Homo sapiens: one gene and its partners. The protein of the gene in region 4 interacts with the protein of the main gene of each other region in a pairwise test. Each region holds a gene or a part of one and is shown on either strand. Other genes may lie near its edges.

The links.
Region 1: the proteins of FAM193B (region 4) and TRIM23 interact in binary tests that used the Homo sapiens proteins (3 or more experiments, as listed by UniProt).
Region 2: the proteins of FAM193B (region 4) and GOLGA2 interact in binary tests that used the Homo sapiens proteins (3 or more experiments, as listed by UniProt).
Region 3: the proteins of FAM193B (region 4) and CNOT11 interact in binary tests that used the Homo sapiens proteins (3 or more experiments, as listed by UniProt).

What each region holds. Positions count from the first base shown.
Region 1 is NC_000005.10:65,607,334-65,610,833, forward strand, and holds part of TRIM23 (E3 ubiquitin-protein ligase TRIM23), read right to left. Parts: intron 2,126-3,500; coding exon 1,910-2,125; intron 1-1,909.
Region 2 is NC_000009.12:128,269,508-128,273,007, forward strand, and holds part of GOLGA2 (golgin subfamily A member 2), read right to left. Parts: intron 3,359-3,500; coding exon 3,278-3,358; intron 1-3,277. UniProt on the Homo sapiens protein: Peripheral membrane component of the cis-Golgi stack that acts as a membrane skeleton that maintains the structure of the Golgi apparatus, and as a vesicle thether that facilitates vesicle fusion to the Golgi membrane.
Region 3 is NC_000002.12:101,251,682-101,255,685, reverse strand, and holds the start of CNOT11 (CCR4-NOT transcription complex subunit 11), read right to left. Parts: upstream 2,801-4,004; 5' UTR 2,722-2,800; coding exon 2,208-2,721; intron 1-2,207. UniProt on the Homo sapiens protein: Component of the CCR4-NOT complex which is one of the major cellular mRNA deadenylases and is linked to various cellular processes including bulk mRNA degradation, miRNA-mediated repression, translational repression during translational initiation and general transcription regulation.
Region 4 is NC_000005.10:177,519,289-177,523,563, forward strand, and holds the end of FAM193B (protein FAM193B), read right to left. Parts: intron 3,978-4,275; exon of another isoform or gene 3,871-3,977; intron 2,784-3,870; coding exon 2,687-2,783; 3' UTR 2,686-2,686; intron 894-2,685; 3' UTR 501-893; downstream 1-500.

The DNA of each region.
Region 1 (3,500 bases), about 110 Mb from region 4:
TCTCATCTCGAATTGTAATCCCCACATGTCAAGGGAGGGACATGATTGGATTATTGGGGCAGTTTCCCTCATGCTGTTCTCATGATAGTGATTAATCATGACATCTGATGGTTTTAAAGTGTGGCACCTCTCCTTTGCTCTCTCTTTCTCTCCTGCCGTCCTGTAAACAAGGTGCTTGCTTCCCCTTCGCCTTCCCCCATGATTGTCTAACTTTCCTGAAGCCTCCCCAGCCATGCAAACCTGTAAATTAAGCCCCTTTCCTTTATAAATTACCCAGTCTCAGGTAGTATCTGTAAAGCAGTGTGAAAATGGACTAATATACCAGTCATTTTGGCACAACACTTCAGAAACTCTAAAATACTTAAATATTTCAGTAACTATGAACAAACTTTTTCATAAAATAAATATGAAAATACTTTTAAGTGTTCAAGTAAATATGATTTAGGACATGACTCCACTCTGATTTTGCTATGTAGCTTCATTATCCGCCATGAGTTAAACATGTATTTATTAAGCTCTTTCTATCTAGATGCAAAGAATTTAGTGACACAAAGATGAACAAGATGCATCAAAGATGAACAAGGTCAGCATCTAAAACACATAGGCATATTGTGTCATTCAAGGTCAAATCGGAAGACACAAATCACACCATTACTTGAATAGAAAGAACTTAAAATAAAAACTGTTAACTAGGTGTAGTTATTAACTAGGTAGCTAAAAGGTTAAAAGGAACTCTGAGGTATTAAGGAGGTAGCAATTGTATGAAATAACATAGCTACCACTTCCAGTGCTAAAGGAATAAAAGGAAGAAGTTAGAATTATTAAAACTTAGAAACTTGCAGGAGTGGCTCATGGAGCTGAAACTCAAACCTCCGAGAAGGGTGGTCTCCTCACATGAGTAACTATGCCCCCTCTTGACAGTACCTAACATGGGCCCAGCTGGCAACACAATTATGAGGTCTGTAGAGTTCTAGCCCTAGTATCACAAAATAGAGGATAGAAGAGTAGGTTTGGAGCTGAAAATCAACTTAATAAATAGCATACATATCAACTGTTACAATTCAGTGTGGTAAGGACTAAATGATAACCCAAGACTGATGAGGCTATAGACTGGCCACTCTCATGTAAGTGTAATCACATATTTAAGAGAAAAAGCTCTACAATGGTACAAGGCTTAGCCTACAATGATTTGAAATCAACACAATTATTAGCAATATATCAGTGAAGATAACACAGACTGCAGCTTTTCTGAAATTCCTAGGGCAATAGTTATTCTTATACCTCACACTTATGAAAACAGATCCAAAACACAAATGGGTAAAGCTGACATTTGTGTTAGAATAACTGAATCTCATTTATTTAAAAAAGTAAGTCATCTGCAAACTGGGTAACAAATTTCTTATGGTATCTCAACCATCACAAAACATACGTTTGCTCTAACAGTGAAGAACCACTGAATTATAGCAGACGTAGGCAGTACATGGTAGAGAGGCACTCAAAAAAAGACCAACAAATAGAAAGCTTCAAAGAAAGGCAAATATTTAAGCTGGACCTTGAAGGAGAAGGAAGATTTCCACTATTAGAAAAGAGAGATATATGCACTCCAAGCAGAAAAAAAAAAAAAACTACATATATGCTTGGCAAAGAAGAGTAAAAGGATTTGGCATAACTGAAGAATGGCAAGAAGTTAGAAGGCCTCAAGAACCCATGGCTTATGGTGGGAAAGGCACGTGAACGACACTGATAATTCCATACTAGTGAAATAATTCAAGGTTGCAGACCATTTCCTAAGCACAAAGTTACTGCATACAGCAGACACAAAATATTAATAAAACACACTAATGTATACCTCTGGTAATTATCTACTTAAACTTACAACTAAGTCCCTAACCACATTTAAACTACCTACCTGCTGCAAAGTCTTTTCACAGTGGAGGCAGGCTGCAGAAACCTCTGACAACAAAATAGTCATATCTTCTTGTTGCTGCCTGAGCCAAATCAATTTTTCACGAACATGAGCATCAACAACACTTAGAGCCATTTCTTCTTGACGACACAGAGTTTCATGTAGATCATAAAAATAAGCTCGAATACATGACCGGGCATTCTCTGCAGTCCCTGGTACCTAAGAAAATGAAAATAAATTTTAAGCAACTGTAATGTTAATAAAGATTTTACCTGTGAAATATTTAAAATTTCAGCCTAGGCAACATGGCAAAACTCTGTCTCTACAAAAAATGGAAAAAATTAGCCAGCCGTGGTGGCATGTGCCTGTAGTCCCAGCTACTCAGGAGGCTGAGGCGGGAGGATTGATTGAGCCCCAGAAGTCAAGGCTGCAGTGAGTGGTGATCACAACACTGCATGCCAGCCTGGGTGACCGAGCGAGACATTGTTTAAATACCATCTATATTAAATTCCAAAATATAAATCTCCATGCTAGATCTTTCCCCTAATGCACAGACATTGGAAATTCAACTGTTTATAAATGACATCTCAAGCAAAATGGAATGCCTAATCTCCAGTCTCCCCTATTCCCAAACCTAATTGCCTCTGTCTTGGTAAATGGCAACTCCATCCTTCAGGATGTTGAAGCAAAAACAACCGGAGTCATCATTATCAGCTCTCTTTCATAGCCCACTAGTCCCTCAGCAAATTCTGCTGACTTCAAAATACACCCAAAATCTGATCATGCCTCATCACCTCTAAGTTACCTATCCAATCAATATTAACAATTAATCACTAAGACCTATCTATTCTACTTATTTAAAATCTCAAATCCATTGACTTGTGTCCACTCTCACTACCCTAGTGTATTATAGGCCATAAACATCTCTAGTATTTTAACTAGAAAACTTTAACAACATCCTAATAGGTCTGCCTGCTTCCAATTTTGTTGCTCCTCCAATTCATTTTCTACATTTAAAACAACCTTTCTTGAGGAAAATCTGATTATATCATTCCTAAGTCAATTCTTCAATGGCTCATCACTGTCCTTAAACTAAGTTCTGAACTCTTTAACATGGCTGACAAGATCCTGCATGATTTGGCTTTGAACTCTCCATATCCTCTTTTCTTGTCATGTCCCATTCAATACTTAAAGCTCTAACTACAGTGAGCTTCTTTAAGTCTCTACAATATGTACAATCCTCACTTACAAACATTTTAACATATTGTTCCCTTCTTGGGACAACTCATTCCCCGTTCTGCTCTTTTCCCTGACTGAAATTCTTCAAATCTCAGTTTAAACACCATTTCTTCTATAAGGACTTCTCTGACCTCCATAAATCATTGTCCCTGTTTTGTGATGCCAAAGCACCCTGTACTTCTCCTCCATAAAATAGTTACCATATTTCAAACTCTCTCTTTTCCATGATGAATGAGTTCCTGAAAGACAGGGACTTTTAAAAAACTTTCTAATGATTGGTGCAATACTGGCAAATTGTAATTGCCCATTAATTACTTAGTAGAAGGTGAAAATATGAAAAATAAAAAAGAATGAG
Region 2 (3,500 bases), on a different chromosome or scaffold from region 4:
TAGGATTCAGAACTTGGGGTCATGTGGAGCCTCTCCCTTGCCCCCAACTGGACCTACCTGCTTGATCAGAGCCCCACCCAGCCTCTCTCCAGGCTCTGACCTTACTCTTCGCCCAAGCCTCTGGTTCTAGAGATCTTCTAATATCTGACAAGCCAGATGGGCAGACAGTGGAAAAAGCTGGCTGACCAGCTAAGCTGGACAAGAGAAAAACACCAGGGAGCCAGGGCCTGGCCACGGAAGCTGGGTCTGGGAGAAGTGACTACACCTCTCTCCAGGGAAAGGACTGCGCGCTCACTGGACCCTTCAGCCCTGGCTTCTGAAAACCCAAATCTGCTTCCCTCCTTAGAGCAAGTGCTGCAGAGGCTGGTGGAACTGAAGATGAGCCAAGCTGCCTTTGCATCTTTGCAAGTTTACTGTGACCATGGAACCTGGTGTTTCCTTGACAATGCCTACAACTGAATCTAATAGGTCAGAGCAAGGGTTCAGTTGCTGGCCAGGCATTAGCCTTGAGGGAAGGCTGGCACTCCTAGCAATGGACCCTGCTAGGCTTTAGGGCCCTCCTGGCATCTTCGGTTCCCACTGATCTCTAGGATTAGACACAAGAATGCTCAGAGGAAGGGAATTTTTTTTTTTTTTTTTTTTTGAGATGGGAGTCTCACTCTGTCGCCCAGGCTGGAGTGTAGTGGCGAGATCTCCACTCACTGCAACCTCCGCCTCCTGAGTTCGAGATTCTCCTGCTTCAGCCTCCCAAGCAGCTGGGATTATAGGTGCACGCTACCACGCCCAGCTAATTTTTGTATTTTTAGTAGAGATGGGGTTTCACCATGTTGGCCAGGCTGCTCTCGAACTCCTGACCTCAGGTGATCCACCCTCCTCAGTCTCCCAAAGTGCTGGGATTACAGGCATGAGCTACTGCACTTGGCTGAAAAAGCATTTTTCTGAGGACTTTCTGACACACATAGCATGATTATTTTGTGAGCAACCAAGTTATTTCATTATTTTAAGTCTTGTAGCCAAGATGGAGTTTTTAAAAAAGCCTACTCTCCTCAAAATGTCCCATCCCATTAAGATATTTTTTCTCTCTCCATTATTCCCTACTTCTGGAAATGTTATCAGCTCCGCTCAGGATACTACGATCACAGGCCTGCATTCCTGGAGTAGAAAACTTACATGGTAATAAAAATGAGAAATTAAAAAAAAACAAAACCTACATTGGAAACAGTTACGGATATAGAGAAGGTATAAAAACAGCAAGGGGCTGGGCATGGTGGCTCACACATGTAATCTCAGCACTTTGGGAGGCCAAGGCAGGTGAATCACTTGAGGCCAGGAGTTCGAAACCAGCCTGAGCAACATGGCAAGACCCCATCTCTATTAAAAATACAAAAAAAATGGCCGGGCGTGATGGTGCAACATCTGTAATCCCAGCTACTTGGGAGGCTGAGGCATGAAAATCACTTGAACCCGGGAGGGGGAGGTTGCAGTGAGCCAAGATCACACCACTGCACTCCAGGAGAAAGAGCAAGACTCTTTCTCAAAAACAAAAACAAAACAGCAAGAAGGAAATACGGGGATCTAGGCCTTTGTTTCCAGAATAGAGGGACCTGGGCTGGCACAGAATCTCAGAGCATTAGGAAACAGGCTGAAGACCCCCTAATCCACTGGACCATTGGCAGAGCAAAAGCCAAATGCTTTTGGCTGCAGGTCACCTCTAAGCCTGTGCTCCCCAGCCGTACCACTCAGCGTCTCCTCTGAGCTGGCAAGGTGAGTCACAGCACCTGGACAGACCTGATCAACTGGAGGGTAACAGGTATGAGACTGGACAACTCTCTAACAGCAGCCAAGGCTGCTCTGTCTCAGTCCCTCTCCCCATACCCATCTCCAACAGGATCAGGCTCTATTCGTGCCCTGCTCCTCTGGCTTGGCAGGAAGGAGTCCCCCAGGTGAGTTAGAGATGGAAGAAATGCCAAATCACAGCCAGAGGAGGTTGTCTCCCAGCCCTGTGTACCTCCATGCCCTGCCCCCCACCAGGCTCCCTGTGTTCCTGAAAGGTGCTCTGTGAGTTCACACTCTGGCCACGGCCTCACCGCTCCCCCTGCCTCCCCCACTCCCCATATGGATTAATGTTACCCACCTTTAATCTTCAAGCCAGCTTCAAATGCCACCTTCTCCAGCCTGGAGTCCATTTGGAACCAACCTCCCCCCGAGCTGAGCATTTGGAATGTTCCAAAATTCTCTCTTGCCTCCTTCAGAGGAGTCTGCCTCCCTCGGTGTGCAGCCTACCTTGTTCATCTATTTTATCCACTGTTTATTTATCAAAGTGCCTTTGTTGTCAAGAGCCCAATGAATATGGCTAAATGTCCATTTGGAGAGATTAGGGGCAGAACGTCTTGGTCACTCATCTGTTTGGTTAACCTCACAACTTTTACAGTTAGTTCCTCTGAAAAAATAGCTTCAATCCTTCCAACTATAATGTGAACTCATTTTCTTTTAACCCTTTGTTCCCTACTCTTAAACCAAAGTGAATTAATTTAAAAAAAAAAAAAAAACACTAACTTCTAGGTGGTTTACTGATCTTTGCCTTTAGGGTAAAACCTAAAGGTCTGTTGGTTTTTTTGTGTTTTTTTTTTTTCATCTCTCCTAGTCTGAGAGTACCCACACTGGGCATTCAAAAGCCCAAATCCCAGAATCCCAGACTGGGAGCAGTGGCTCACGCCTGTAATCCCAGCACTTTGGGAGGCCAAGGTGGGTGGACCACTTGAGGTCAGGAGTTCAAGACCAGCCTGGCCAACATGGTGAAACCCCATCTCTACTAAAAATACAAAAATGAGCCAGACATGGTGGCAGGCACCTGTAATCCCAGCTACTCAGGAGGCTGAGGCAGGAGAAACACTTGAACCCAGGAGGCAGAGGTTGCAGTGAGCCAAGATTGTGCCACTGCACTCCAGCCTGGGCAGTGAGACTCCGTCTCTGAAAAAAAAAGAAGAAAAAAAAAAGCCCCAAATCCCACACACCTGCTCTAAAAGTTATTCCCAAATTACCTTTAAACTTTTAAACTTTAAGATATGTCTCACCTTCTCCAAGATGATAAAAGATTTGGGGGAAGAATAAAAACCCAATCAATCAAGCAGGTGAAGAAGCGGACATAAACAGGCGGAAGGTTAATGGCAGCAACATAAAATAAGCCAGAGGCAAAGTATCCCCCAAACCAGAGAAGCCTCAGGGGCATGCACAGCTGGAGAGAGCAAGCCAGAGAGGGGTCTCGGCACTGCCTCACCTTCCACTTGTCCAATGGGGGGAGCGCTACCCCATTGGAACGGTTAAGGTCGGACACCAGCACCTTCAGAATGTCCTGAATCTACAGGAGGCGAAAAGGGAAAAACAAGGGCAGGGGGAGAAAGGTAGAAGTGGCTTAGAGAGAGGCAAGAAAGTCAGGGAAGGAGGAAGATGTGGGTTCAGGGAAATGAAATAAGAAGAGTGGAGGAGATCAATACCATGGC
Region 3 (4,004 bases), on a different chromosome or scaffold from region 4:
TCAGAGTCATCTGAAAAGCATTCTGAAGACATACCCACTAAATGTCTTACCCTAAACATACAATATCAGCAGCTCTGGGAGTGGAGTGTAGGCACTGATATTTTCTCTTCTATGTTATCTACACACCATCCCTACCTACTTTAATAATGGTATAATAGTGGGTAACACTCACAGGTACTTTTTTTTTTTTTGAGACGGAGTCCCGCTCTTTAGCCCAGGCCGGATTGCAGTGGCACAATCTTGGCTCACTGCAAGCTCCGCCTCCCAGGTTCACGCCATTCTCCTGCCTCAGCCTCCCAAGTAGCTGGGACTACAGGCGCCCGCCACCGCGCCCGGCTAATTTTTTGTATTTTTAGTAGAGACGGGGTTTCACCGTGTTAGCCAAGATGGTCTCGATCTCCTGACCTTGTGATCCGCCCGCCTCGGCCTCCCAAAGTGCTGGGATTACAGGCGTGAGCCACCGCGCCCAGCCCACTCACAGGTACTTTTATTCTTTGTAACAACTCTACCAGCTGGGAATTGTTACTATTTGCATTTTACAGATGAGGAATCTGAGGCACAAAATGGTTAAATATAATCCATCCATGGATTCCTTCTCTGGTGACTGCCATCCCACCTATGGCAAATCTGTGTGTATAATGCGGTCTACGGACTAGGTGTGGGTTTAGATTCACTGTACATGAGAATGACATTATATAAGTCACGGTTTCTTTGCCTCACTTGTTCTTCAGAATTCAAAGGGCCCTCTGATCTAAATCCCAGTGTCCCAATCCTCTAATACAAGCACCCTAGGGTGGTGGTTGTCTGTGTGTGTGTGTGTGTTTAGAAGCTGTCACCCTAACTCACTGCAGCCTCAAACTCCTAGGCTCAAGTGATCCTCCTGCCTCAAACTCCTGAGCAGCTGGGGCTACAGGTGTTAGCCACCCCATGCCCAGCAAATTTTTTATTGCTTTGTAAAGACAGGATCTTACTATGTTGCCCAGGATGGTTTCAAACTCCTGGCCTCAAGCAATTCCCACCCCCCAACCTCCACCACTTCGGCCTCCAAAAGTGCTGGGATTATAGGCGTGAGCCACCTAGCCAGGCCTAGGTGGTGAGTTTTGACCACAAACCTGTGTTACATTCACTTTCTGGGCAGTCACAAGCTTCTTAGAAGCAGGTTAAGTACCTGTACCCTAAAGGCATCTCAGGCCAATACAAAGGGTTGCCCTTCTTAGATAAGGGCACTACAGGACACCTATCAGAAGATCCTGATGGGATGCCCGGCAGGAACACTAACTAGAAACGCGGCCCTCCTGTACCATAAAAACAAACTCCTGGTGTTACTTCAAAATCTACTGCCTAGCCTTGACTCACTGTATAGCAGGCCCTACCTATACTGGTTAAGGAATGTAAGATCAAGCTGTTTCCTATCTCTGTGTGCTTCCTCCACTACACTGGTTCCTAAATCCTTCAGGTCCCGTTGTCAACATGCCATTTTTCTTGTTTTCTGACTGCAAGTCTTCTCGCAAAGCAAATCCACATAAAGCATCACCTGCTTGAGCTTAAAAACAAAAAAAAATGCAGCCTCGCATCTAACCTACTAGTTTGATCTCACCAATGCCACACAATAGTAAATACATTTTACATAATGTATACCACGTATGCACTTTACATAATGTCCAGTAAGTCATGTGTTTCCAAACGCGAGATCATCAATTTGAGACTTTCTATCCTCTGCCCCCATCCCTAACAGGCTAAGAAAGGCGGCTGCAAAGTCTTTAAGGTGTTTCATGTGTATTTCCGCCCACCAACTTCTTCAGCTTCTTAATACTGACTTCCACGTACTCCTTTGAGACTAAAAACCGGGGACAGATCCAGTCTTATCATTGGTTTTAACTTCACACACCACAGACGGGTTTTCGAAGAACGAACCGTATTTGAGACACTAAACATGTCAAGACCTACACTGAGCTGTATGATGTGATGGGGTGTATAGAGAAATCATTTTCGGTGTCACGAACTTGCAATTAAGCTACCACCTCTCCATTCTTTAGAGTTAAGGCGGGGAGGAGTGAGGGGCGTGGGAACGCAGAGAGAGGCGGAAAAAGAGGATGATCATTTCACAGGGATAGTTAATTTCCCTTTCAGGTGAGTTCCCAGCAGCGCAGGTGGAAAGCTGCGGAATCTAACGCTATCCACACGGCACAGCTGGCTTCAGGAGGTACCTGAGAGCGGAGGGCGGTCGGGTTCCTGGCCGCCGCGGGCGGGCGGCGCGGGGTTGAGCAGGTGCGCGAAGCTGGCGGCGAAGGGGTTGGCGGCCAGCGGCTCGGTGCGGTACATCTCCCAGAGCAGGTAGAGCGCCGTGAGGCGCTGCGCCGCGCTAGGCAGCAGGTCGGGCTGCTGGAGCAGCATGACGAGCACCGAGCCCAGGCGGAAGTGGTCGGCCTTGCTGAAGTAGTGGTGGAAGGCGGTGGACAGGCCCTCGAAGGTGCTGCCGCCGCCCGCCTCCTCCGATATGATGCTCAGCAGGCTCGAGAGCTCCTTCGGGGTCAAGCTCATCCTGCCCGCGGGGCCCCCCGGGCCTCCGCTCCCGGACCCGGGGCCGCTTGCTCCGCCTCTGCCGCCGCCGGAGCCCCCGAAGCCGCTCCTGGACGCCGACCCTGCCGCTTCCCGGGACCCTCTTTGCTCCGCGGCGGTGAGAAGCCGGCCAGACGCCGCGCTCGCCCCTCCGCCGGGCATCAACCTCGCTCCCCTTCCCCTCTTCCCGGCCCGAGGGGCCCTGGCGCCGGCTCGCTCCGTCCCCGCGGCCGTAAAGCGCGCTGTTACACGACAGCGTCGCAAACAAAACACGTCGGGGAAACCAGACCGCCGCGGAGAGGGACAGCGCCCAGCGAAAGCGAGGCTGATGGAGCGAAGCCAGGAAGAGGATGCGGAGACGCGGGGTAGGCGGGGCGAATTGGCAGGAAGCGGGGGCGGGGCCCGGGAAGGGAGGGGAGGGGCGGGGCGAGGTCGGGCTGGTGGCGTTCAGGGTTAGGTCTGCCGAGGTCCCGCGGCAGGAGAGCCCGGGGACTGCATGCGTCTGCGCAGCTGCGAGGTTAAGCCGCCCTTTGGCGGTCCCCAGGACGGTTCCTGGTGCCAGACGGTCCCAGTAAGTGCTGTCTACGTTATTATTTGGAAGAATGCACCTCAGATGTTAACTATTTTCTTAATATAACATCCGTAAGTATTCGTCGTAAAAAGTATTGTAAATGCAGGCCGGGCGTGGTGGCGCGTGCCTGTAATCCCAGCACTTTGAGAGTCCTAGGCGGGAGGGTCGCTTGAGCCCGGGAGTCCCAGGCTGCAGTGAGCTGTGATCACCACTGCATTGCAGCCCGGGCGCTCTGTCTCAGAAACATTTTTTTTAATTTAGTAAATGCAAATATACCACACATTTCACATAACCACGGTTAATTTCTAGTCTTACACTCATTGCAGAAATGGAATCATACTGCACTATGAGCTTTTTTGTACATGGTTTTTTCTCTTAACATGATTTCGAGAACATGTCTCCAGTTAATATTCATTTACAAAATTGTTTGCTGTGCCACGTTTTACTTAGATTGCCCTAGGGCACTTATCCTGGGCACTTAGCTGTGCATTAGAAACCCACGGGGAGACGTTACAAATACCTAGTTCCACCCCCAGAGATGCTGATTGAGATATTAATAAACCCCACCTCTTCAGGTGAGTCTGAGGTGTAGTCTGGGCTGAGAACCACCAGGTGGCATTTCCCAGACTTGCCCGGTCCCTAAACCTACAGAAACGTACGCGTATTTCGCCAGTGATTACCACCAGCGATTCTAATTATCTAGTTAAGAGCCACCTCAATTCTTTTTTAAAACATATTTTTATTTTATTTTATGTGTTTTTGGGGAGAAAGATATTTTATGTAAAAAAAATTTTTTTCATCTTTTTAAAACTTGTATTTCAGTAGTTTTGGGGGTACAGGTGGTTTTTGGTTACATGGATAAGTTTTTAGTGGT
Region 4 (4,275 bases):
CCCACTGGAAAATCAGATCTAATTTATAAAAAACTCAATTTACCCCCAACTTCCCCTGACTGTGAAGTCAGTGTGAGGGGCCTCGATGGCCCAGGCTACAGATCCATGAAGGCCTCAGGGTCTTTCCTAGACCTCTTCTCACATCCAGATGCACAGAGACCATCTTCAACCCCTCCAACTCACCCATCTTGCAAAGAGGGAAACAGGAAAGAGTGGGGAAGGGGCTGCCCCAGGCTCACATACCAGAGACCTCCCAAAAGGAGAAAAGGGCACAGATGCCATAATCATACCAGTCTGCGCTCAATGCTAATCAGCCAGACTAAGTTGAGCTGAGTCACTTTCCTATCGGCTTTAGTTTCCTCACCTGTAAAATGGGACAATAGCACCAAACTGCTGATGCATGGTGCATGCTAGGGTTAGTGACTAAGGGAGAGCCCATGCTTCTGAGCACACCCTCAACTCCCTCCCCGCCCAGACCCACAAATCACCAACATGCCAACTCTGTGTCCAAATGTTGCTTTATCTTTCGGCACGAAAGATCTTCACAGTATCAAAAGTAAAGAATTGGAAAAAAACAAAATAAAAACAAAAACAAAAAAACCAAACACAAAGAGAGCAGTGTTGGGCCAGCAGTACCATCAGCCCTGGCCCTTAGGCCAGCCCAGTCCACGGGCTCTGAGTGTGGAGGCTGCGTAGCACCAGGAAGCGGCTCTGCTGAGGTCAAGGGGCCCCAGCACAGTGTGGCATCCGTTCAGCTTTTGGTTGGTCCAGGATGGTGGGGAGCACAGAGGGTCTTGGACGGGTAGGTGGGGCACACGGAGGGAAAAATTATACGCCTTCAGCTGGCAGTCAGGGCCTCAGGACGCCCTGAAGCAGCTCAGCCTGGGCAGGGCCTGAGAAAGAAAAAAAGAGCAGAATCACAGTAAGCAATGAGCCATGCTCCAGCCTCCCCATGCCACTTGGGTACCCATGGGTCTCTGGTAGCAGAAACAGCTGGCTGCTATTTTTGTTCCCTGGGCTGAAAATGTTGAAGATTCCCTGGATCACCTGTAGCAGAGGATGCAGGTTAACGGGTTGGGAGACAGAGCCCCAGTCCCAGGATCCTGACAAGGTGGGGGACAATCCTTGAGTAGATCCAGCCTTTGGCACTTGCTGTCCATCAGCAGGGGCTGGGAGGCCAGCTGTGCAGCTGTGCTCCTGCCTCTGACTGTAGGTGCACAGCCCGGGGGAGGGTGAAGAGGCTCAAAGGAGAGCGCTTACTAGGGGGTGGGGAGAGGGGCATCTTCTATCTTGGAAAAGAGGCCAGACCAGGTGAAAAAGGGTCAAGAGGAGGCAGTGGAAGGAGACAGTTGCATTTGATTTCTTGAATGACAGAACTGGGCTTGTGGGAGGAAATGCGATCTCTTTTCTCTCAGTAGGGATAACAGATGAAGTGCCTGGGGTTCCTGCTACTCCTGGTTCCCATGGAGGTGGAGAAGAGGCAGGAGGCCACCTTGGATCTGGAAGATACTTCTGGGGCTTGTGGGCATCTCAGTTTGGCAAAGGGGGCTGACTGAGCCCAACCCCTTCAGAGGAGAGGAGGACTAAAGTGAGTGTAAAGAAGACAGTCTGGACTCTGGGGCAGCACAAGGGTCACAGGGAGCCCCAGCTCTGAAGGCTGTCCTGGCTGCAGGCTCTCTGAGCTGCCCCTGGGGAGCTGAGGGTCCAGGAAGTTTGCTGCTTAGGCCCAGAGAGGAGCTGGCCTGGCACTGGAAAGAGGAGAAAGACAGGTGGGGCCATCATGGGGGAAGTGAGTTGTTTGTGAGCTCAGTCTGCCTGCCCCAGCCTTCCAGTCTCCAGGACAGCTGTGTGGTTGCCAGCCGGAAAAGGCCTGACCCCAGGGACACAGCTGAGGGTTGAGATATGAAACTGCAGAGCCACTCAGCCCCCAGCCCAAGGTCTGCCTGCTAGCTGCCCTTCTCTTCATCAATAGGGTTCCAGGCCCAGTGCCTTCTCCAGTTGTCTGTTCCCAGTCCAGATCATCATCTGGTACATCATTGTTTCAGACAAAAGGACCTGTGTGGGTGGCTGGGAGGGGATGCCAATGCCATCTGGCACCCAGGTCTCTTCCTCTAGGAGGCACTGTGGCTACCAATATCCTCATGGAGCTTGCCCTGCTTTGGGTAGCCCCCATCAACTCCTCCATGCCTAAATGACCCACGATGTTCACTCAGGGCTGGCCCCTTCTTATACTGCTTCAGCTGGGAAGTACCTTGGTAGCCTACACTGAGGAGCCCAGGGCAGGAAGTGGGACTTGACACAAGGACTGATAACATCAGGGGTGAGGGCAGCCCCATGGGTCTGATGGCTACCTGGGCACTTTTGAAATCAGCTGGTTAAGACCCTGATGGTTATGCCTTAGGAGATGCCAGTCCAGGAAGGGGACCTTCAGGAGCATGGGCAGCAGGGCCCAGGGAGGAGTAATAGAACAGAGGCCTACAGGTGAGTGGCTGCGGGAGGAGATGGGGCCTTGACCTTTGGAGGCTGTAGCCTGCCATTGCTGTGAAGATGCAGACAGAAGCCAGGGATCCCATGCCCCAAGTCCAACTCCCTGTGCCCCAGAGCACAGAATGGTCTGGTGAGCGTACAGAGAGGGTGGCCAAGCACAGGGAGAGGCAGTGGATGTAACTCTTGGGGTCTCTGTACCTCACTGAGCTGTGCTAGGAGTGGTTTTCTTGAGGCTGAAGTTGGTCCAGTTCACAGCAACTTTCTGACGAGTCTGCTTTGCAGAATCCAAACAGAACCTGTTGGGTTTGGGGGACACATGAGAAGCACAATCAGAGGTTCATTCTTTTGCTCACTGGACTCCTAAGGTACCATGTCCCCATCACTAAGAGACCAGGTTCTCTACAAAACCTCTTTGGCTCTCAGGTGCTAGGGTTTAGCAGGCATAGGAGCTTTGCTGGCTTGGGGGCTTCTGGATTGGGCCCAGGGAACTATGTATGAAGACAGTGAAACTGCCTTGGGATTCCAGTTCCTCCTCATCTGGTGTTTGATTCTCTAGCTCTGCTAGGCTGGCTTCCGTCATTCCCTTAAGTACAGTCGTCCCTCTGAATCTGCTGGGGATTAGTTACCCAGATACCAAACTCTGCAGATGCACAAATCCCTTATATAAAAATGGTGTAGTATTTGCATAAAACCTGCACTGCTCTTCCCATATACTTTTTTTTAAAATTACTATTTTTTTTTTAAATAAGAGATAGGGTCTCACTATATTGCCCAGGCTGGTCTTGAACTCCTGAGCTCAAGTGATCCTCCCACCTTGGCCTTCCAAAGTGCTGGGATTACAGGTGGGAGACACTGTGCTTGGCCTTCCCACATACTTTAAATCATCTCTAGATTACTTAAAATACCTAATACAATGTAAATGCTATGTAGTTATTATATTTTTATTTTTATTTATTTGAGACAGAGTCTTACTCTGTTACCCAGGCTGAAGTGCAATGGCACAATCTTGGCTTACTGCAACCTCTGACTCCCAGGTTCAAGCGATTCTCTTGCCTCAGCTTCCCAAGTAGCTGGGATTACAGGCGCCCGCCACCACGCCCGGCTAATTTTTGTATTTTTATTAGAGACAGGGTTTCACCATGTTGGCCAGGCTGGTCTAGAACTCCTGACCTCAAGTACCTCAAGTGATCCGCCTGCCTTGGCCTCCCAAAGTGCTGAAATTACAGGCATGAGCCACCACCTGTAAAAATACGTATTTTTTTGAGACGGAGTCTCGTTCTGTGGCCCAATCTCAGCTCACTGCAGCCTCCACCTCCCAGGTTCCAGCGATTCTCCTGCCTCAGCCTCCCGAGTAGCTGGGATTATAAGCACGTGCCACCATACCTGCCTTATTTTTCTATTTTTAGTAGAGACGGGGTTTCACCAACTTGGCCAGGCTGGTCTTGAACTCCTGATCTCAGGTGATCCACCCGCCTCGGCCTCCCAAAGTGCTAGGATGAGAAGCATGAGCCACCGCGCTTGGCCAAAAATACTAATTTTTAAAAAATTTGCATTATTTAGTAATGTATTGCTATTTTTTGTGTTTTGTTTTTTTTCCTGAATATTTTTGATTGCAGATATGGAGGGTGACTGTATGCCGTGTTTCTTTCACCCTAATCTTTTGTACTCACTGGCCCCCTTGGCATGAATACCTTTTCATCTTATCTGGCCAACTCATTCTTACTCTTCAGGTTTCAACTTGGTTACCACCTCTCCTGGGAAGGCCTCCTGGCCAGCCCCCACCCCTTC